3 linked regions of the Homo sapiens genome follow. The protein of the gene in region 1 interacts with the protein of each later gene in a pairwise test. Each region holds a gene or a part of one and is shown in the gene's direction. Other genes may lie near its edges.

Evidence for each region. Proteins that work in one complex are often made in the same cells at the same time.
Region 2: the proteins of SLC17A9 (region 1) and MYG1 interact in binary tests that used the Homo sapiens proteins (3 or more experiments, as listed by UniProt).
Region 3: the proteins of SLC17A9 (region 1) and TARS2 interact in binary tests that used the Homo sapiens proteins (3 or more experiments, as listed by UniProt).

The regions. Positions count from the first base shown.
Region 1 is NC_000020.11:62,948,348-62,957,378, forward strand, and holds the start of SLC17A9 (voltage-gated purine nucleotide uniporter SLC17A9), read left to right. Parts: upstream 1-4,361; 5' UTR 4,362-4,483; coding exon 4,484-4,542; intron 4,543-4,863; exon of another isoform or gene 4,864-4,884; coding exon of another isoform or gene 4,885-4,925; intron 4,926-8,417; coding exon 8,418-8,615; intron 8,616-9,031. UniProt on the Homo sapiens protein: Voltage-gated ATP nucleotide uniporter that can also transport the purine nucleotides ADP and GTP. Uses the membrane potential as the driving force to control ATP accumulation in lysosomes and secretory vesicles.
Region 2 is NC_000012.12:53,301,801-53,307,751, forward strand, and holds the end of MYG1 (MYG1 exonuclease precursor), read left to right. Parts: intron 1-1,233; coding exon 1,234-1,393; intron 1,394-4,107; coding exon 4,108-4,260; intron 4,261-4,397; coding exon 4,398-4,520; intron 4,521-4,879; coding exon 4,880-5,061; intron 5,062-5,165; coding exon 5,166-5,349; 3' UTR 5,350-5,377; downstream 5,378-5,951. Other genes in the region: AAAS (aladin), read right to left, coding at 5,689-5,913. UniProt on the Homo sapiens protein: 3'-5' RNA exonuclease which cleaves in situ on specific transcripts in both nucleus and mitochondrion. Involved in regulating spatially segregated organellar RNA processing, acts as a coordinator of nucleo-mitochondrial crosstalk.
Region 3 is NC_000001.11:150,482,662-150,490,492, forward strand, and holds the start of TARS2 (threonine--tRNA ligase, mitochondrial), read left to right. Parts: upstream 1-4,757; 5' UTR 4,758-4,789; coding exon 4,790-4,855; intron 4,856-5,196; coding exon 5,197-5,393; intron 5,394-6,302; coding exon 6,303-6,426; intron 6,427-7,831. UniProt on the Homo sapiens protein: Catalyzes the attachment of threonine to tRNA(Thr) in a two-step reaction: threonine is first activated by ATP to form Thr-AMP and then transferred to the acceptor end of tRNA(Thr). Also edits incorrectly charged tRNA(Thr) via its editing domain.

The DNA.
Region 1 (9,031 bases):
TTTGATTCTGTATTCTTTATTCCAGTGTGGCATATGTGCCCCTCTGTATCTTTTGAGAAGTGCGGAATAGGTTGCTTCTACCACCTGTTCTTAATGTAACAGTAAAAGTTTTCACATTTTTCTCAGAACTGTTATCTGGAAGCTCTCTTTTTTCCTAAGGGTATTTTAATAACAAATACTGATGCATTTGTATTGAAAGTTGATATCTTGGAATGGAAGGACAGAAGAAAGCTCGCCTCTTGGAACTGTAGTTGGCTCTCCTCTCACTCTGACAGTGCTGCCCCTTTTAGTTTGTAAATCTGTACTTGGTGTGTTTAATTTGAAACCTATCGGCTGCTCTCTTGACTGGGGCACTTAATGTTTCATAAACTAATTTCCTTGGTGTGAAGGAAGTAGAACTTTTGAGCTACCCACTGCATGATTTTAAACTGATTTTAATAGCCTAAGTAATTACTCTTTTTTTTTTTTTTTTTTTGCTTAATGAAATTTTCCAAACATATTAAAAACAGAGGGAATACGCCAGCACATCCCAGTATCCACCAGTCAGCCTGACACCCACCACCACCTGCCAGAGCCCCAGGCAGGAGATAACTACAGGTGTCTGATTCTGGGTGGCTACCATGCTTTCAGGGCCATGAGCGTCTTCATGAGTGGAAGGCAGTTGTAGGGTTCTTGGAAAGGACTCAGACTGACCCCTTCAAGGGCCTGAGGTGAAATTCAGAAACTGCCCATGCAGAGAAGCTGAGCAGCGGGCATCATGGAGCGAGGCGTTGAGAGCTTGCATGTTTGTTGGGTATCAGAGAACAGGGAAGGCCTCTCCTCACCTGCTGCTCCTCCCTATGTGGCAGTGGCATGTCACAGTGTTCTTGATGTTCACACACCTGTGCCAGTCCATTAGCCTCACGGGTCAGAAGGCAGCACGGTAGTTCTTAGTGGAGGTGGGCATCACCAGGAATGCTTCAGTGTGAGCTCCCACACTACAGTCTGGAGGCTCACACCATCCTTGCACACATGGCCTTCCTGTCTTAGATATTCTGCCTTATTTTGGAATGCCATCTTTGCTTGTGGTTTTTCACTTCTGTTAAAGTAGAACATGGGGTTTGAATGGGCCTTTGGTGTAACTAGCTATGGCAAGAATCTTTTAAGAGATGTGCTCTTTGGAGATACAATGTCCTGAGCTTGTTTGCCTTTTCCAGAAGCCACAAAATGGCTTTGAAGATAAACAGGCCCATGCTACAGAGCCACCGGCACAAGGCACCTGGTGTGCAGGAGCTGAGGTGCAGCCTGTGGTTAATTGATAATAATCATGTCCCCACATCTGCACAGTGGGGGCTGTTTCTCTCATTTCACACCCCAGTATCCACCAGTCAGCCTGGTGCATGTGTGCGGGGAATATTTAAAGGGAATGTGACGTTCTGATTTGTCTGTAACATTTCAGTGTCACCTAGTTCAAGGCCAGGTTTACGGGTCCAAATTGTCCATAGTACAGAAGACCATTTATCAGGTGAAGCCCGTAAAGCCATAGGCACAGCTATAACCAAAAGAATTCATGAAAGGAGTAACAACTGAAGGTGAGTGGGTTTCCTCATGTTTGTAAATGCAGGTCACGTTGCAGGCTCTTCCGCCAGCTGTCCGTCCATGCAAGGCAGTTGGTCACCCCGCAGGCTCACTTCGGAGATGAAGAGTGCTGGGTGCAGCAGCGCCTCCTGTCCTTGGGTCTCTGTGTATTTGAGGTGGAATTGATGAGCTTGGGAACCAGGGAGAAGCGGTGGAGCTGCTGTTGCCTTGAGCTGCCCGTGTCAGGCAAGGTCTCCGCCTGGCTGTGACTTCTGCTTCCTGGAGACACATCTGTAGGCGTTCCTCACACAAACAAGGTTTTCTCCCTCTTGTGGATCACGGTGTGTGACTGACAGCTTTGGTAATTTTCCCAGCTGGCTTTGAAAGTGAAGCAGGCTGACCCGTCACCAAGAATTCTCTGCCATGGAGGGTCATGGAAGAACGGGAAGAGGTGCTGGCGGTCACAGCAGCCCAGGGTTCGTCTGTGCTCGTTTATAGATTTGTGTGCCCATCCAGTCCTCACTGGGCCCTCCCAGTTTTAGAAATGTTGAACACTAGTGCTTGTAAGATTCGAACAATGAGTTTACCAGCTCTGAGAAAAATGAACTGCTCCAGAACCTTCAAGAATGTTTCTCTGTATCACGCCCACATCACACCGAATCCATTTGTCGTCATTGCAGAGTTCATCTTTCTGGTTTTGAGCACCATCTCACACAGTTCTTTGTCTTTTTCCAGTCTGCTGTTGACTGGGTTAGCTCAGCCCGAAAGGTGCCCCCACCTTTGAGGCAGTTCCCGCACGTGATGTCCAGTACCGCGGTCTTCCCTCTTGCTGCTGCCTGTCAGTCATGGCAGAGGAAAGTGTCATCTGTCAGTCTCCTTTTCATGGACTCCTCATCTTGAGAATTGTAGTTGGGCTGGAAGGTTGCAGGGCTAAGTGGGGTGCAGGGAGGAGCCCCAGGCCCAGGGCTGGCTTGTCTTGGTTTACAAGAAGCTGTGCGGGGTCTCCTGGGGCGTCTGTGGGGGGTGTGGATGCAGAGGCTGAGCAACGGGCGCCATACGTAGTGAGGTGTGGATTTGCTTTAGGAAAATCTCTAGCATCGTCTCCCTATAGCAGCACTTGAAATAAACAAGAAGTTAGGTGGGCCAGGCCCAACAAGAGGGAGGCACGCAGCCTTCCAGAAGCAGAGGCCAGTGGGTGCTGGCTGTGACTGCCCTGTCCGCAAGGTCACCCTGTGTCCTTGAAAACCCAGGTGTTGACTGTCTATTGTCCCTACATAATTTTTCACCTTAGGCCTCAAAGATGCTTGGGTGCGGGGCAGCTCTCAGAATCCACCAGAAGCGTGGAGAGCCTCCATCTGGCCACTACCAGCACCCAGCTTTATAATGTCCCTGTGAGATGGCCCCTTCACCCACCCAGCCATCCCTGCATGGCCCGTTTCTTCAGCTCATCCAGCCTTCACTCAGGTGTCCAGGGGTGCCTCCTCAGCCCAACCTATTTGAAGTAACACCCCTTCCCTACCCCTTTCACTACTTTGATTTTTGTCTACCTGCCCCAGAACATCAGCTCCAGGAGGAAGGGGACTTTGGGTAACCAGATGGCAAATGTCTGCTGCAGCATGATCACAGATCTCGGTAGGAAATCACCATCACAGAGTGAATGGAAGCGAATCACCTCAAAGAGGGTGCTGTTGACAGCGATACGTTTAGCAACAGTTTCCAAACTTCCTGGCTATGGGCTAGGGCTGTTTGGGGCAATAAACCTCTCTCTGCCACCATCTTTTCACCTACCCTACGTCAGGATGGATGAAAGTATGACCTTGCTTTTCAGGGTGCCCGTGTCTTTCTGTTCAGAGGGCCCTGGGAGCAGGCCCTGCAGTGCAGTGGGTTGGGCTGTTGGAGACCTGAGGGCTAGGGGGAGGGAGGGGGTAAATGTGGGTCTGTTCTAAGTGCAAGGCCCTGCCTTAGACGTGTCTCCCTCGGCCCCTGGGTGGTGGCTGCTGCGTGGAGGATGGACTGAGGTGGGCCCTAGTGGAGGTGGGGGCAACGCCTGAGGAGCAGGCCCTGCCGCCTCCTGGGGAAAGGCTGCATGGTTGAGGCCTTCCCCTGCTGGCTTCATCCTTGGCATGGCAGCAGGAGCACACAGAGTGGGGGCCCCACCCCGTCACCCCTGCCCCCGAGCCCAGAACCTGGCCTGTGATGGGTCCTCAGGACACCTTTTGTCCAGGAACCCAGGGGCCAATGACAACCTTCACAGGCATCTGCTGAGAAGACATGGGCCAGCGCTGGATTTGTCCAGCTCTCCCAGGCTTGGTCCAAGGGCTCAGGAGTGGACCCATCCCTGCCCCGAAAGATCCATTTTAAAAATCAGTGACCCTGTACTTTTACTCTCTTTGCACTTGGTTAAGACTTTATCCCTGATTTTATTTGATCGGTAAGGCAGGGACTGCCATCATTCCCCATTTTATAGACAGAGGACAGACGGCCCCATGGCTCCGTGTCGTGTCCAAGGGATGGGCTGGCACCTCTTGGACCAGGCTTACCACCAGGGCCCTTCTCTGAAGCCCCAGTCTGACCGGCCTGCTGCTGGGAATCCCCCTCTGCCCCCACACTAACCTCTGCTGGGGCTGAGCCAGGGCGCGTCGGACAGTCAGGGCGACCCAGCCAGGGCGACCGTTGGCCCCGCTCCTATGGGGCAGCAGGGACCGACGTCAGCAGGGTGGGGCGGGCACCCGAGTGGTATGCCCCGCCCTGCCCCGCCTGCCCGCCCTGGTGGCCGTCTGGGGGCGACAAGTCCTGAGAGAACCAGACGGAAGCGCGCTGGGACTGACACGTGGACTTGGGCGGTGCTGCCCGGGTGGGTCAGCCTGGGCTGGGAGGCAGCCCCGGGACACAGCTGTGCCCACGCCGTCTGAGCACCCCAAGCCCGATGCAGCCACCCCCAGACGAGGCCCGCAGGGACATGGCCGGGGACACCCAGTGGTCCAGGTGTGGCGGGGGTGAGGGGAGGGGGGGTGGGAGCGGTGGAGATGGGGCCGTGGGGAGGGAGCTGAGATACTGCCACGTGGGACGATGCTAGGTGGGGAGGGCTGAGCTGGGCGGGCTCCTCTGGCTGTGGGGCCCCCTGTGTTCCTTGTGGGAGGTGGAAGGAAGTGAGTGCCCTGTCCTTCCTCCCTGCCATGAGATTCCAGGACCGGACCTGGCAAGTGCCCTATCCCAGCCAGTGTTCCTGGGGCTCTTCCAGGCAGGGCTATGTTCCCCAGGCCAGGGGCATTGTCCTGGACAGTCAGGAGGCATACCCCTCGCCAGGTGGAACCACCCTGTGTATGCATGACCCTGACAAGCAGGCGCCAGGACAGTCAGGAGGCCAGGTAGGGGGCACGGGCTGGAGCCTGCAGCTGGACGGGGTTGGGGGGGGTCCTGCCACCACGTGCCAGCTGTGTGCTGAGGACGAGCTCCCCGCTGGCTTCAGCTCTCGGAGCATTTGGTGGTGGGGAGAAGCAGGGCCTGGGCAGGTCGCCTGGCCACCAGCACTGCTGCCTGTAGGAGGCTCCCTGGGCAGGTGACGCCTCAGAAACCGGGCGAGATGGTGACCGCGGGCCATTGGTCAGCTGGGGAGGGCCTCTGCCAGGGAGCTCCTGAGAGCAGCCCCCACACTGCTGAACCCCTTGGCTCTGGGTCTTGGGCTGAGGCCTTAAGTGGCTGGACCCTGGGCCTAGACTCAGGCCCTGTGGGTTCCAGAGCAGTCTCCTGCCTGCACTGAGTCCCCAGGGTACCTACCCTGACCATGGCAAGGTAATGGCACCTTCTGGCCCCACCAGTTCCCAGCTGTATGAGGGCTGAGGACCCTAGAAGTGCTGGGAAGAGTTGTAGGAAGGCCCAAAGGGGCAGTGCCACCATCGGATGTTGGCACCCAGATGAAGGGAGCGCTGGCTGCATGGGAAAAGCTGGCAGCCCAGATCACAGCCCTGTCAGGCGCCAATTAGAGGGGAGGGCTGCCCTCAGCGGGCCCTGCCCCTTGCTCTCTTCCTCTTCCCCCACCCACGTTCATCCAGGCCTGCCGGGCAGGGCCAGCTCCCCAGGGATTCAGGGCCTCCTCACTGGCGGCTGGTTTGAGTGGCTCCGCCTTCACTACGTCCCTCCCAGGCTCGATGTTTAAAAAGGAGCCCTTGCCGCAGCCTTCACTACGTCCCTCCCAGGCTCGATGTTTAAAAAGGAGCCCTTGCCGCAGCCTTCACTACGTCCCTCCCAGGCTCGATGTTTAAAAAGGAGCCCTTGCCACAGCTCTTCAACTTCCTTTGCAGGCCCTTATTGGGTAGCGCCAAGGATTCTGGAGGGGCCTGTGGGTCAAGGCTGCCACACGCACGCCTTTTCCTAGCCCGCCCTCCTGCAGCCACATCACAAAGGCTGGGCCAGGCGAGAACAGAGCTGGAGGGCGGCACCCACACTCTCCGGTTTGCTGCTCGCCTGGCCCGGCCCCGCACAGTTCCCTTTTCTGAATGGAGGGGCCATGTGACCACCTGTTTGCTCAGCCGTGGATGCTGCTTCTGCACAGGGGCCGTTTGCTCTAGAAAGTTCACAGGAAGCAGGCTGCTGGGCTCAGGGAGTGCAGAGTGGTGGGAGGAAGCTGTTCAAGCTGCCCAAAGCTTTCCGGTTCTTGGCACACCCCCCGTCCCCCGCGCCCCCAGCAGGATGGAGGATTCCCAGCCTGGGGTCCTAGTCAGGCCTCAGGTAGCCGACTGTCTGGGCCATCCTCTCCAGCCTGACATCCTTGTCTCCCCGGCAGCTGTGGAGGGTGCCCCTGTGCCCACCTGGCCAGCACCACCTGCCCAGCTCAGAGAAGGGGCTGTGGCTGCCGCCTGCCACGTAGGGCAGATTGCTTGCCTGGAAGGGCTGTTCTTGACTTCCTCCTTCCAAGGAGGCCCTGGAGTGGCTCTGTGTTCTCAGTCCTGTGCTGGCCTCAATGGGGGTGAGGATCAGTGCAACTGAGCTTTCTGCTGTTTCTAGCTAGCGGCCAGGCAGTGCGGGGCAGGTGCCACCTGGACACAGGTCCCCCACCTCCCCCCCTTTCTTTTTCAAGACAGAGTCTCTCTCTGTTGCCCAGGCTAGAGTGCAGTGGTGCAATCTCGGCTCACTGCAACCTCGACCTCCTGGGCTCAAGCGATCCTCCTACTTCAGCCTCCCAGCTGGGACCACAGGTGCACACCACCACACTCAGCTAATTGTTGTTTTTTTTTCTTTTTTTTTTTGAGATGGAGTCTCGCTAGGTGGAGTCTCACTCTGTCGCCCAGGCTGGAGTTCAGTAGTTTGATCTCGGTTCACTGCAACCTCTGCCTCCCAGGTTCAAGCGATTCTCCTGCCTCAGCCTCCCAAGTAGCTGGGATTACAGGCACCCGCCACTACGCCTGGCTAATTTTTACATTTTTAGTAGAGATGGGGTTTCACCATGTGGGCGAGGCTGGTCTCGAACTCCTGACCTTGTGATCCTCCCGCCTCAGCCTCCCCAAGTGCTGGGATTACAGGCGTGAGCCACCATGCCCGGCCCTGGCTAATTTTTAAAGTTTTTTTTTGTTTTGTTTTGTTTTTTTTTGTAGAGCTGAGGATGTCCCCATGTTTCCCAGGCTGCTCTTGAACTCTTGGGCTCAAGTGATCTGCCCACCTCGGCCTCCTAAAGTGCTAGGATTACAGGCATAAGCCACCGTACCTGGCTCTAAAGCTCCTTTTTAAAGGCACCTTTGGACTGTGTGGCTTTTAGTGGAAAGTTAAGGGTGGGGGCCCCCATGTCCCTTCTGCAAGCCTCGTGTGTTAAGTCAATGAAAACTGTTTACAGAGAGCCTGGGGCTAGGTAAACAACAGGGCTGCGGGTATCAACCACGCCAGGACAGGGCGTGGAGGCCAGGGCTGTACTGGGTTAGGCAGCCTGGCAGTGAGGACTGTGTCCTTCTGTGGTAACCCAGGGAGCAGCCAGATATGGGGCAAGCCAGTTGTCCCCAGAGTGGAACCTGGCTGCAAATGACGCTGGCGAAACCACACTCACTGCCAAGTTCCAGGACAGACAGCACTTCCTCCCACACAACTTTCTCCAAACTCCAGGGGTTAATGGTTGGCCCTGCCGTGGGGAGGGGCTGGAGCCAGGATAGCCTCTGGCAGAGCAGGAGGTGTCAGAGGACGCAGCTCTGGGCTGCTGGAGTGACCTGTTCTTGCCTCTGAGATCTCGCCCGGCCTCCCTCACCAGGATTGGGAGTGTGAGCTGGCCGGCCTGGCTCTGTGACCTCGGGCATGGTCAGTGCCCGACTTGGTGGTCTTTTCTCCCGTGGGAAGCGTCTAGGCGCAGACTTGCAGAGAGTGCCGAGAAGGCCGTATACCTGCCCCTCTGTCCACAGCACACCGTCATCCACTCACTCATCTGGGGCAGGTTCTTGGGAGCACACACCCGGGGTGCAGCCAGCTCCCCGCAGGGGCAGACAGGACCTTTTGGGAAGGGTGGGGTGAGACTCTCCAGTGTCCGACTCCTCTGCCACCCATCTCCTGGTCACCCTCTCCCCTGTTCTCTTTGAGGGGAACAAGCAGGGCCCGGCCCAGGCACCTTTTGTGGGGATGAGTCGTTGCTGTGACCTGCCCGAGTGCTGGCCACTCAGTTGCTCCCAGGAGCCACTGTGCCTCATTTCTGGCTGCCTGTGTTCTCCCAGGGGTCAGCAGATAGGTGCGATTAGGTGTTTGAATGCTTGCCAAGTTGCCCTCCATCAAAGCTGTCCCCATTCACAGTCCATGTCCCCCAGCCCTGAGGGAGGTCTCTGAGTGATGAACTCGAAGCAGCAGGGCCGTGGGGCCTCCCCAGGGCCTGACCATCTCCTGTCCCACAGGCCCGAGTGCCAGGCATGGACGGGGACGCTGCTGCTGGGCACATGCCTTCTGTACTGCGCCCGCTCCAGCATGCCCATCTGCACCGTCTCCATGAGCCAGGACTTCGGCTGGAACAAGAAGGAGGCCGGCATCGTGCTCAGCAGCTTCTTCTGGGGCTACTGCCTGACACAGGTTGTGGGCGGCCACCTCGGGGATCGGTAACTGCCCATCTTCCCCATCTCCTGGCTGGTGGGGGCCGCCCCACTGGGGCCTCCAGGGGCGAGTGGGCTGGCTGTGCTGCTGCACGCAGAGGATGCGACTCCTGGGGAAGGAGCTTGGTGGACACAGAGGATGCGACTCCTGGGGAAGGAGCTTCGTGGACACAGAGGATGCGACTCCTGGGGAAGGAGCTTGGTGGATAAATCTGGGCAGAAGACCCCCCCAGAGGAAGATGGGAGCTGGGAGGGGAGAGGCCAGGCTTGGCAAGGCCCCAGGGCCCTGCAGGCAGAGGAGGCAGGCCGCTCCCCTGGAGTACCTGGTCTCCTCACGAGGCAGCTCTGGGGTCATGAGCAGGCCCTGTAGAGGCAGACAGGCCAGGCCCAGCTCTGAGCACCCACTCAAGGGCTGCCCTGAG
Region 2 (5,951 bases), on another chromosome or scaffold:
GCCTCAGCCTCCCAAGTAGCTGAGACTACAGGCGCCCAGCTAATTTTTGTATTTTTAGGAGAGACAGTGTTTCACTATGTTGGCCAGTCTGGTCTTGAACTCCTAACCTCAGGTGATCCACCCGCCTCAGTCTCCCAAAGTGCTAGGATTGCAGGTGTGAGCCACCATGCCCAGCCTCATTTTTTTTATTTTTACTTTTTTTGAGATGGAGTTTCGCTATTGTTGCCCAGGCTGGAGTGCAGTGGCACTCAGCTCACTTCAACCTCCACCTCCCAGATTCAAGTAATTCTCCTGCCTCAGCTTCCCAAGAAGCTGGGACTACAGGCGTGTGCCACCATGTCCGGCTAATTTTTCCATTCTTAGTAGAAACAGAGTTTCAGCATGTTGGCCAGGCTGGTCTCAAACTACTGACCTCAAGTGATCACGCCTTGGCCTCCCAAAGTGTTGGGATTAGAGGTGTGAGCCACTGAGCCCAGCCTGTATTTACTCAATATTTAATAATAAAAGTCAGTTAACAAATGGAGCTCCCTAGGTAATTCTGAGATGGACTGGTATTTAGAAATCATGGCTGTAGTTTCTGCTTCCCTAACATCTGTTATATCTTTTCTCTATTTTCTGCCCCACTGCTGTTCAAATTCTTGCCTTCTTTATTCACCTGAACCATTGCAGGTAATCTCCTTGCATCTGTTCTCCATGCTGGCTGGTGCAATGCTGTAACATGCACCTGCCTGCTTAAAATCCCCCAATGACTTCGATTACCCACAGATAAAGTCCGATGGTCTGGCCCTGCCTGCCCTTCCAGCTTTTTCTTTTGCCATTCACTTCTCACACCTGAGCTGCCTTTGCTGAAGTTCCATCAAGACACTTGTCTCTCAGCCATCATTCATGTTGTTCTCTCTGCTTGGAATGCTTTTTCTCTTTCACCCCTTGTCTATCTGGTGGACACCCACTAATTCATCTTTCAGAACTGACCTGAAGGCTCTCCTCTGAACCCTTTCCTCATCCCTTCCTTCCTTTCCCTTGTCTCGTCTAGTGAGAGTACTCAGGGGGTTGTGTTTGTCGGCCTCCGGCAGATGAATCTGAAAGCAAGGACAGTGTCTTGGTTTTTTATCCTTAATGTCTAATAAAACATAAAATGTGGCAGATAGGAAGCATTGAGTTAACCATTGAATGAATGCATGGAGACTCTAGCCAAGGTCCCTCACCTCAGCCCCACCTCCCTATGCTCCTCAGGTCTTTCACAGAGACCATGAGCTCCCTGTCCCCTGGGAAGCCGTGGCAGACCAAGCTGAGCAGTGCGGGACTCATCTATCTGCACTTCGGGCACAAGCTGCTGGCCCAGTTGCTGGGCACTAGTGAAGAGGACAGCATGGTGGGCACCCTCTATGACAAGGTGGGGACCTGAGGACAGAGATGCCCCCCACATGCATTTCCAGCAGGCCGCCTGGGAGCAGTGCTCACACAGCACTCAGCACTGGGCCTCGGGTCAGGGTTCCTGGCCTATAGCAGGCCCAACACTCATCCTCTCCCTCAGTCAGGCTCATCTCACAAGGGAATGGTGATACCTCCCCTGTCTACATCCTGGGGTGGTTGTGAGAAGTGGATGCTGTAATATATGGGGAAGGGCTTTGAAAACCATAAAGCAGCATGGCCCCGTCTTTTTATTGACACACACAAACAGCAATTGCTCAGCACCTTTGGGTAAACAGAGGGGAGGCTGCTTATGTGTGGAAGCAGATGGCTCAGAGGTTCTGGCTGCCCTGAAGGTTGAGGGGAGTGTATGTTAGGCACCACTGTAGTTCACTAGTGGCACATAAATTGGGAAGCTCAGCTGAGAAGAGTTTTATTATGAAACTGTCTTTGGATTCCACCAGTGTCCCCTGCAAGCAGCTTCCTGCTCTTAGGGAAAGAATATGGCTAGTGGCCCTGGCATGCAAGTCAGGTCGCACAGTACTGAGGACACTTACTTGTTTACAAGTCAAAGCCCAGGTTCAGTCAGCTGTATTTCTTGCAGGTAGGCTGTTGAATTCAGTTCTCAGTTTTTTTGTTGTTTTTTGTTTTGAGATGGAGTCTTGCTCTGTCGCCCAGGCTGGAGTGCAGTGGCGCAATCTTGGCTCACTGCAAGCTCCGCCTCCCGGGTTCACGCCATTCTCCTGCCTCAGCCTCCCGAGTAGCTGGGACTACAGGCGCCCATCACCATGCCCGGCTAATTTTTTGTATTTTTAGTAGAGGTGGGGTTTCACCGTGTTAGCCAGGATGGTCTTGATCTCCTGACCTCGTGATCTGCCCACCTCAGCCTCCCAAAGTGCTGGGATTACAGGTCTGAGCCACTGCACCCGGCCCATCAGTTCTCAGTTTTAGCTTGCCCATTTTCTGCCCTCTGTAACTATAGAGTTTTTGGAATATCAAGATTTTAGACTGCCTGGGTCAGTTTTCCCTTCCACTGCTGAAGGGTTTCTAAACAACTGACTAAATTTTTGTTGTTGTTTTTTTTTGTTTTTTTGAGACGGGGTCTTGCTCTGTCATCCAGGCTGGAGTGCAGTGGCACAATCTCAGCTCACTGCTACCTCCGCCTCCTGGGTTCAAGCGATTCTCCTGCCTCAGCCTCCCAAGTAGGTGAGATTACAGGCGCCTGCCACCACGCCTGGCTAATTTTTTATTTTTAGTAGAAACGGGGTTTCACCGTGTTAGCCAGGCTGGTCTCAAACTCCTGACCTCAAGTAACGCACCCACCTTGGCCTCCCAAAGTGCTGGGATTACAGGCGTGAGCCACTAATCCCAGCAACAATTGACTAAATTTAACCCGTATTTTTTTTTGAGAGACTGTTGCCCAGGTTGGAGTCCAGTGGTGCCATCATGGCTTGCTGCTGCTTTGAACTCCTGGGCTCAAGCAGTCTTCCCACCTCAGCCCCCCAAGTAGCTGAGACTACAGGTGCATGCCACCATGCCTGGCTAATTATATATCTTAATTTTTTTGTAGAGAGGGTCTTGCTATGCTGCCCAGGCTGGACTCAAAAACTCCTGGGCTCAAGTGATCCTCCCACCTCAGCCTAAACCCATGTTTTTTTTTTTTTTTTTTTTTTTTTGAGACGGAGTCTCGCTCTGTCGCCCAGGCTGGAGTGCAGTGGCGGGATCTCGGCTCACTGCAAGCTGCGCCTCCCAGGTTCACGCCATTGTCCTGCCTCAGCCTCCCAAGTAGCTGGGACTACAGGCGCCCGCCACTACGCCCGGCTAATTTTTTGTATTTTTAGTAGAGACGGGGTTTCACCGTTTTAGCCGGGATGGTCTCGATCTCCTGACCTCGTGATCCGCCCGCCTCGGCCTCCCAAAGTGCTGGGATTACAGGCGTGAGCCACCGCGCCCGGCCTAAACCCATGTTTTAACTGAGCATCAGGTTGGGATCCAAACCAAGAAGAGCTGGGCATAGGAGTTACTTTCTCAGTGCTCTGAGAGTAGCACTTTTCTACATACCACAGGTGTACTGTTATGGAGGCCTATTTTGTAGGGTAATTTTGCATAAAGTTTCTGCCCCGAGACTCTTGAGGCATTATCCTACCATTTATTCAGACCCAGGAGACAACTGCTGATGTCATGAGGCACATTATGGGCTTCCCTGGAACCCTAACCCAGCAACCAGCTTTTGGTGTCTAGTCTCACACTCATTTTCTCCCACTTGACTTGTGTTCTCAACCAGAGCCGCTCCTGCACCTCATTAACCGTGTCACTGAATACCTACTCACCCCACCTGGAGATTTACCAGCCTTCAGCCACAGGGACCCACTCCCACAGAGAGCCTCTAGCACCTAGAGACCTTCCTTGTTCAAAAGTTAGCAGTCCCCTCCCTACACGTGTTGGCTTTGGTTTGGGCTTTGTGCAGCAGAATGAGCATGGATTAGAAATCAGGTGATCTGAATTCCAGTCACAGCACAACGAGCTGTCTGAGCTTCAGCGAGCTGCTGAACTTGCCAATTCTCCCTTTTCTCATCCAGTTAATGTTGAGAGATCCTCACAGGGCTGAAAGAGTGTGTATGAACATACTTTGAATCATGTAAGATTTCACATAAGTAGCAGGTAGCCTCAAGAAGGTTTCCCCTGCTGCTGCCTTAGATGTATGAGAACTTTGTGGAGGAGGTGGATGCTGTGGACAATGGGATCTCCCAGTGGGCAGAGGGGGAGCCTCGATATGCACTGACCACTACCCTGAGTGCACGAGTTGCTCGACTTAATCCTACCTGGAACCACCCCGACCAAGACACTGAGGTAAGGTGGCCTGGGAGGAGACCCGGAGACCTGTAAGAACCTTGGGTGGGGGGAAAATGGGAGCATTTGCTCCTCCTAAGCCCTAGCAAATTCCAAGTTTGGGCCAGCATCATGGTTCTAATTCTCATCATTCCCAGGCAGGGTTCAAGCGTGCAATGGATCTGGTTCAAGAGGAGTTTCTGCAGAGATTAGATTTCTACCAACACAGCTGGCTGCCAGCCCGGGCCTTGGTGGAAGAGGCCCTTGCCCAGCGATTCCAGGTATAGGCCTTGGAGGAGGCATTATGGCTTGAGGATTACTGACTGCCAATCAACAGGAACTCCTGCTTCTTCTACCCTAAACCCTGGAGTGCAGTGGCAGACAACCTCAACCTCTTAGGCTCAAGCAGTCCTCCCACCTCAGCCTCCTGAGTAGCTGGGACTACAGGCACACACCACCTCACCCAGCTAATTTTTGTATTTTTTGTAGAGACAGGGTCTTACTTTGTTGCCTAGGCTAGTCTCAAATTCCTGGGCTCAACTGATCCTCCCACCTCAGCCTCCCAAAATGTTGTGACTACAAACATGATCACCATGCCCAGCCTACCTTAAACCTTCTAGCTATGCTCTCCCTCTTTCAGGTGGACCCAAGTGGAGAGATTGTGGAACTGGCGAAAGGTGCATGTCCCTGGAAGGAGCATCTCTACCACCTGGAATCTGGGCTGTCCCCTCCAGTGGCCATCTTCTTTGTTATCTACACTGACCAGGCTGGACAGTGGCGAATACAGTGTGTGCCCAAGGAGCCCCACTCATTCCAAAGCCGGTGAGGCCCTAGGGAACCACTCTGCAGACCTTCAGGCTTGTCTCAGCCTTGTTAAGAGAAGGCTGCCAACTCTGACCCCTGCTGTACTCCCTCTTTCTGCCCAGGCTGCCCCTGCCAGAGCCATGGCGGGGTCTTCGGGACGAGGCCCTGGACCAGGTCAGTGGGATCCCTGGCTGCATCTTCGTCCATGCAAGCGGCTTCACTGGCGGTCACCACACCCGAGAGGGTGCCTTGAGCATGGCCCGTGCCACCTTGGCCCAGCGCTCATACCTCCCACAAATCTCCTAGTCTAATAAAACCTTCCATCTCATACTGACCCAGTCCTTGACTTATTCTTGCCCTACACCATTCCAGAAACTTGTGAAAAGTGAAACAACTATTTATGTGTAAGACCCTGTGCTAGATATATTTTCTTCACAGTAACTTCTCAGCCTTGCTTCCCAAATCATTTGAAACCATAGTTTCTAGGATTAAATAACGTGACCAAATTCACAAGTGGCTAAAAAGTGACAGAACAGGGCCTTAACCCAAAGTCCATGCTTTTTTCCCCTACTGTACCCCACTGCAACTCCCTGGAAAAGACAGACTGGTAACTGAGTGGAAAACAAAAGGAAAACTTATTTATTCTTAGAGGTGGGAATGTGGGGAGTGGGGCAGAACAGGTGGTGGCCCTGGGAGAGGGTCCCAAGGGGCAGAGGTTGGGGATGTCTCAGTAAAGAGGGGCAGGTCATGAATAGAGCCTCCACCCCCAGCAGGGGGTTCCTGGGCCCGCCCAAGCACTGGGCTAAAACGTGGAAACTGGGCATTGACAAAGTACAGCGGGATGTGGGCAATTCGGCCTGTGGACCAGCCCTGCAGAGAAGGGAAAGAAAAGGATCAGAGTCTGGGCC
Region 3 (7,831 bases), on another chromosome or scaffold:
TTTTGTATTTTTAGTAGAGACGGGGTTTCACCATGTTAGCCAGGGTGGTCTCGATCTCCTGACCTCGTGATCCACCCGCCTCGGCCTCCCAAAGTGCTGGGATTACAGGCATGAGCCACTGTGCCCGGCCTCTGCCTTCTCTTTTTTTTTTTTTTTTTTTTTTTTTTTTGAGACAGGGTATCATTCTGTTGCCCAGGTTGCAGTACAGTGGTGCAATCACGCCTCACTGCACTGGATCTCCTGGGCTCAAGCAATCTTCCCACCTTAGCCTCCCAAGGCACATACCACCATGCCCAGCTAATTTTTTATTTTTTGTAGAGATGGGGGTCTCACTATGTTGTCCAGGCTGTTGTCGAACTCCTGGACTCAAGCAATCCGCCTGCCTCAGCCTCCAGTGTTGGGATTACAGGCGTGAGCCACCACACCCAGCCAAATATACTTTCTACATCTTTAGTGCTTCTAAGAAGTAAGATAGATTTGGAGGTATGTGCTGATCCTGAGGACAAGTGGAAAATATTTACATGTAGTTTAAAGTTACATGTAGTTTAAAGCTATAAAAACAATACCTTCTGAACTAGGACTCTAGTCACCTTGGAATTTCTATTCCAAAAGTGGAGTTAAGCTGAGAATTTCCTAAAATTTTACTAAGGGCCTAGGACACCCTTCACTGTGGATTCCCTTTTTCCTGCACTTCTGTGGAAATCTAGCTTTATTTTGTGCACACTTTTTTCCTTAACCTTAATCTGGTAGAGAAAAGTCGGAAGACGCCTCTTTTCTTGGCTTTCTATTGGACCCACCTCTTTTACCCTATATCAAAGGCCTATTTGGCCACAAGTATCAGAATCTTATAACCTGACACATTATGACCAATCTGGTCCCTGAGAGGCAGTATGGCATAGCATAAACAACAAGGGCTTTGCATTCAGATAGACTGGGGGCTTTACTTCTTTGAGAATCATTTTCCTGTTTTAAAGGGAGTATACTTGACATAGTTGTTTTAGGAATTAGGTGAAATAGTGAAGGCATAGCACCGGGTGTTCAGTAGTAGTCTAGGGTGGAGGGGCAACAGCCCAAGTTTTAAGAATAGATGTTTCAAGCCAGGCATGGTGGCTCACGCCTGTAAACGCAGCACTTTGGGAGGCCAAGGCAGGTGGATCACCTGAGGTCAGGAGTTCAAGACCAGCCTGGCCAACATTGTGAAACCCCATCTCTACTAAAAATACAAAAAAATAGCCAGGTGTGGTGGCGGGCACCTGTAATCCCAGCTACTCGGGAGGCTGAGGCAGGAGAATCGATTGAATCTGGGAGTCGGAGGTTGCAGTGAGCCAAGATCGTGCCATTGCACTCCAGCCTGAGCAACAAGAGTGAAACTCCATCTCAAAAAACAAAAAACAGGCCGGGCACAGTGGCTCACGCCTGTAATCTCAGCACTTTGGGAGGCCAAGGTGGTCGGATCACGAGGTCAGGAGTTCGAGACCAGCCTGACATGGTGAAACCCTGTCTCTACTAAAAATACAAAAATTAGCCGAGCGTGGTGGCGCGCACCTGTAATCCCAGCTACTCAGGAGGCTGAGGCAGAAGAATCACTTGAACCCGGGAGGCAGAGGTTGCAGTGAGCCAAGATAGCGCCACTGCACTCCAGCCTCGGCGACAGAGCAAGACTCTGACTCAAAAAAAATTAGCTGGGTGTGGTGGCGTACACCTGTAATCCCAGCTACTGGGGAAGCTGAGGCAGGAGGATCACTTGAACCCAGGAGGCGGAGGTTGCAGTGAGCCAAGATCATGCCACTGCACTCCAGCCGGGCAACAGAGCAAGACTTCACCTCAAAAAAAAAAAAAAAAAAAAAAAAAAGAATAGATGTTTCCTAGGCTGACTAATGGATTAAAATTCCCCAATACTGAGGCATATGCTAGTCACAAGTCCGAAGTTGTAGAAGAACCAGTAACTCATGAATTGGCCTTAGCTTGCTCTTGCACTTGCTTACTTGCTTGCTTGCTTCTTACAGAGGGCGGATGGAATAACTCAACATTCCTTCCTTCCTCCACTGCAACACAAGTTACATAGGTGATGATGTGGTAGTTGATTGATCGGCATCCCCTCAGCACCCAGCTCACTGCATTGCACACAGTAAGCAGTTAGTAAATGAGAGCATCAAATCAATACCGTGATTGGTACATACTTGATTCAATAATTATTGGGCACCTACCATTTTGTTGCCTGCAATACACCTTTCCCCTTTTGGTGCAGAGGCATGAGAAGAATTCTGCCTGTTGCCACCCTTTCTGAATGCCATTTAAAAATTCTTAACTACCTTCTCCAAACCACACACACACAAGTTATCTTCCTCTCCCACACTCTTGTCTCTTTCTCTTTGTATTTCAGGGTGTCTACCAGAAGATGGACCCAAGATCCATGGAGGCTCCTGTGACTCAGATCAACTGCCCTGCCCGGGAAACCTGGTCTCTCCGGAAACCTTGATTAAACTGCTTTTTCTGACACCTCTTCCTCTACAACCCTTGATTCTATCACCATTGAAACTTCAGAACCAACTCTAACCATCCCCACCTCCAGGTGAGGGGACTAATGAGAATTACTGACAGCCTGATGGCTACCCCCAAGTCAGTTTCCCTTCATACTTTACTACAAATCTGACCATGTTCCCATATTTACTGAGTAAATTTGATGAAATTTACCTAGTCCTGTGTCCTAGATGTATCAGGGAGAGGGAAGAGAAAGGATAAAGGAAGTTGAGAGCTGGGATAGGAATTAGAGGCAAAGGGCTTATGTAGGGAGCAGAGAGCTAAAATTCTAGTCAGGCACCTCTTTCTGAGGTGATGGGGGAGTATACTGGGAGCAAACTCTTCTAGAGAAAGCATGGTGTGGTAAAAGAAAACCAAGCTTGGATTCAGAAATCACCATCAGCACTTGCTGTTTGACCTTAAATTCCTCATCTGTCAGATTAAAAGGTCTCGGCCGGGCATGGTGGCTCACGCCTGTAATCCCAGCACTTTGGGAGGCTGAGGCAGGCGGATCACCTGATGCTGGGAGTTCGGGACCAGCCTGACCAACATGGAGAAACCCTGTCTCTACTAAAAATACAAAATTAGCTGGGCCTGGGGTGGCACATGCCTGTAATCCCAGCTACTCGGGAGGCTGAGGCAGGAGAAGCGCTTGAACCTGGGGAGGCGGAGGTTGCGGTAAGCCGAGATCACGCCACTGCACTCCAGCCTGGGCAACAAGAGTGAAACTCCATCTCAAAAAAAAAAAAAAAAGATTAAAAGGTCTATAAAGTCCCTATTAAGCACCATGAGTATAAAGGGACTCAAACTGACCTCTGCAGATTCTTGATTCCAGCTTTTTTGTTTTTGTTTTGTTTTGAGATGAAGTCTCGCTCTTGTCCCCCAGGCTGGAGTGCATGGCGTGATCTCGGCTCACTGCAACCTCCACCTCCCGGGTTCAAGCGATTCTCCTGTCTCAGCCTCCCAAGTAGCTGGGATTACAGGCGCCCACCACCATGCCCAGCTAATTTTTGTATTTTTAGTAGAGACGGGGTTTCACCATGTTGGCCAGGCTGGTCTAGAACTCCTGACCTCAGGTGATCCACCCGCCTCGGCCTCCCAAGTAGCTGGGATTACAGGCGCCCACCACCACGCCCAGCTAATTTTTGTATTTTTAGTAGAGACGGGGTTTCACCATGTTGGCCAGGCTGGTCTAGAACTCCTGACCTCAGGTGATCCACCTGCCTCGGCCTCCCAAAGTGCTGGGATTACAGCGTGAGCCACTGCGCGCGGCCATCTTTGCTCCAGCTTTAAAGTGGTTACTCCAGAGGCTGAGGTGGTCAGTTGAGCCCAGGAGGTCGAGACTGCAGTGAGCCATGATTGTACCCCTGCACTCCAGCCTGGGCAACGGTGAGACCTTGTCTCAAAATTAAAAAATAAAACTGTTACAGTCATTTATCATAATAGCTTCTTGTTGCTTTTGCCCATTACCAAAAAACCATGGGCCACACTAGACGATTTACATAAAATTTAACTCAACAATTGGGAGCAACACTATTCTCATTTTATAGTTGAGAAAATTGAGGCTTAGAGAAATTAAATAGGTCAGGCAAGGCGGCTCATGCCTGTAATTCCAGAACTCTGGGAGGCCGGAGCGCGGTGGCGGTTTGGTGGGGGGGAGGGGAGGGATTGCTTGAGGCCAGGAGTTCGAGACTACCCTGGCCAACATAGTGAGACCCGCCCCCCCCTCCCGCCCCCCCCGGTCTCTATTAAATAAATATGAGAAGTTTAATAATTTTCCCAAAATTACATAGTTAATGGCAGATCCAGAATTTACACTAGGTCTGTCTGGTTCCCCAGTCTATGCTCTTAAGTTTTGCTACTTGCTGTAAGGACCACGTAAAATAAAATGTATAGTTAAAGGGAAATTACTACCATTTCCTGTCTGGTTTTCTCCCACTCTCGCCCTCAAAAGTTCACCTGCCCTTGTCCTCAAAGCCACAGGACGCCTAATTGCTATTTTTGGGTTTCAGCTGAAACGCCACGGGTCTGGGGGAATAGCGAGGGTGTGTTACATTTTCGGTCTTCCGGTCAGCCGGAACCACTCACACCGCTGCTGGTGCTGTGTAGGGTGTACCTCTTCGGAGTTCCTGGAGGTGGTGCCAGACTAGAGTGGCAGCTGTAGTAACCAATAGACACGGACTTTGTTGGACCAGAAGCCAATGAAGAATTACGTGGAGGAGAAGCGGCGATAATCTGTTTGAGGATGTAGGCACTGGTGTGAAGGAACATGGCCCTGTATCAGAGGTGGCGGTGTCTCCGGCTCCAAGGTTTACAGGCTTGCAGGCTACACACGGTGCGTGAGGCACCCCCAAAGCTCCGATCCGCATCAGACTTAGCCCAGCCGAAGCCCCCAAATTTTTATGTTAACCCAGCCTCACGCCACTCCTCCTCTCCCTGGTCCTCCGAGTCCCCAGAAAAGGACTCGTATCTAAACTCGTTATCTAATTCTCGAGTTAGCGGTCTGGGGGACTCTGAGCTCGAAGGACCCCCAGCCTAGGGTCTTGTATCACCCAATCCCCTTAAAAAGTAGGAATTCGGACGAAGTCCACTTAACCATCCCAAAGTGCCATCATCTGCAATTCTAAGAAAGAATGATGGGACGTGTGTTACCTGCTAATATATCTTTCCCTCCAGGCAGTTGTGTCGACCCCTCCACGCTGGTTGGCAGAGCGGCTTGGCCTTTTTGAGGAGCTGTGGGCTGCTCAGGTAAAGAGATTAGCAAGCATGGCACAGAAGGAACCCCGGACTATTAAGATATCACTTCCTGGAGGCCAGAAAATTGATGCTGTGGCATGGAACACAACCCCCTACCAACTAGCCCGGCAGATCAGGTAACAGGCCCATCCTGTAACTACCAGGATTATCCTTCTGCCCCTTTACTTTCTCTTCACTTGAGCAGGGGAAGAAAACTTGGTCTGCTTGTTTCTGTTCCGTCCCCATTAAGATAGCCTTTCCTGAAGATTTTGTTTTTGTTTTTTGTTGTTGTTCTTTTATACAGACGGGGTCTCTCCATGTTGCCCAGGCTAGTCTTGAACTCCTGGGCTCAAGCGATCCTTCCATCTCAGCCTCCCGAAGTGCTGGGATTACAGGCATGAGCCACCAAACCCGGCCTGAGATTTGTTTTATCTGTATTAGTTTCTGCATCAGAGTCTCTGTCCTTTCATTGGGGAAAGAAATGAAAGCTTCTGTTGCTCTGGTAACTCATTTCACCTTTGCAAGTTTACAGTTGCTGAGAGATGAGCAACTTTCTCCCCACTGTGGATTGTAACCCTGTCTGTTTTAAATCATTAATTTACTTTTTAATAATTGATACATAATAATTGAACATATGAATGGGTATATGTGATATTTTGATATATGCATACAATATGTAATGATCAAATCAGGGTGTTCAGGATATCTGTTACCCCAAACATTTATCATTTCTTTGTGTTGGGACTATTTCAAATCTTCTAGCTATTTTGAAATATACAATAAATTATTATTAACTGTATTCACCCAACTCTGCTATGGAACATTAGAGCATATTCCTTCTGTCTAACTCTATTTTTGTACCCATTAGCCAACCTCTTCATCTCCCCTCCCCCATCCTTTCCAGCCTCTGGTAACTATCACTCTATTCTCTACCACTGTGAGATCAACTTTTTAAACTCTCATATAGGAATCAGAACATGTGATATTTTCCTTTTTGTGCCTTGTAACCCTGTCTTTTTCTTCATCCCCACCTTCCACTGCTGAAGTTCAACACTGGCAGATACTGCAGTGGCTGCTCAAGTGAATGGAGAACCTTATGATCTGGAGCGGCCCTTGGAGACAGATTCTGACCTCAGATTTCTGACATTCGATTCCCCAGAGGGGAAAGCAGTAAGTTTCTTTCTTATCAGGAATACAGTGACTACTAAACCAAGAGATATTGAAGCAGGAAATTCTAACATTTTATTCTTTTGCCGCAGTTTCTCCATTTGCAGTTGGGAGGGAGACCTACCACAGACTGTCTTGACTATTTCTGGTTAGGAAACTTATGGTGAAAGTTTTTAACTTAGCTTCGATCTATTAAGCAAACATTTGTGCTAGTGAGAGGGAGAGAGATGATATGTTGAAAAAACGAAAGGATAAATATGTAAATTCAGCCCCCTCAACTCTTGAGCACGTACATTATAAGTCATCTGTAGTGTATATTCAATTCTAACATGGCTTATACAGCTGAGCAAACAACCTGGTCACCTCCCCACCTTGTCTTCTTCATGTCAGCTCAGGTAGCACAGACCTTGCCTATTAGGATCCAGAAAAATAGAGTTCTCCTGCCATCTATGTGTAAATAGTGACCAAATCCAAGAGGAATATATCGCACTAGATTCGTGGGACAGAAAAAAATAGGACTAAAAGACCAAACAGAGACCTAAGTAACCACTGTGTTAAGAAGATAGCTTATTCTGGCCAGGCACAGTAGCTCACGCCTGTAATCCCAGCACTTTGGGAGGCCGAGGCAGGTGGATCATCTGAGGTCAAGAGTTCAAGACCAGCCTGGCCAACATAGTAGAAACCCCGTCTCTACTAAAAATACAAAAATTAGCTGGGCGTGGTGGTGAGCACTTGTCATCCCAGCTAATTGAGAGGCTGAGGCAGGAGAATTGCTTGAACCCTGGAGGCGGAGGTTGCAGTGAGCTGAGATCGCGTCATTGCACTCTAGCCTGGGCGACAGAGCGAGACTCCGTCTCAAAAAGAAAAATTATTCTGAAGCCCTAAAAGCTTACAGGAGCAGCAGAAGACTGACTGGCCTCCAGCTTCTATGCTTTGGAACTGGGAAGAACCAAGGATTGAGGGGTGGGGCTGGAGCTTCTATGCACTGAAAGAAGAAAAAATACTGGCCTTCTTTCTTTTCTATTCAGTCTTTTTTTTTTTTTTTTTTTTTTGAGATGGAGTCTCACTCTGTCACCCAGGCTGGAGTGCAGTGGCGCGATCTTGGTTCACTGCAACTTCCACCTCCCGGGTTCAAGTGATTCTCCTGCCTCAGCCTCCTGAGTAGCTGGGATTACAGACACACGCCACCATGCCTGGCTAGTTTTGTATGTTTTAGCAGAGACAGGGTTTCACCATGTTGGCCAGACTGGCCTCGAACTCCTGACCTCAGATGATCCGCCTGCCTTGACCTCCTGAAGTGTTGGGGTTACAGGCATGAGCTGCTGTGCCCAGCCTTTTTTTTTAAGCTTGTTACTTTTTAGTGGTCACCCCCAAAATCTAGGATCCCCATTTTGTGGTAGTTATTCCT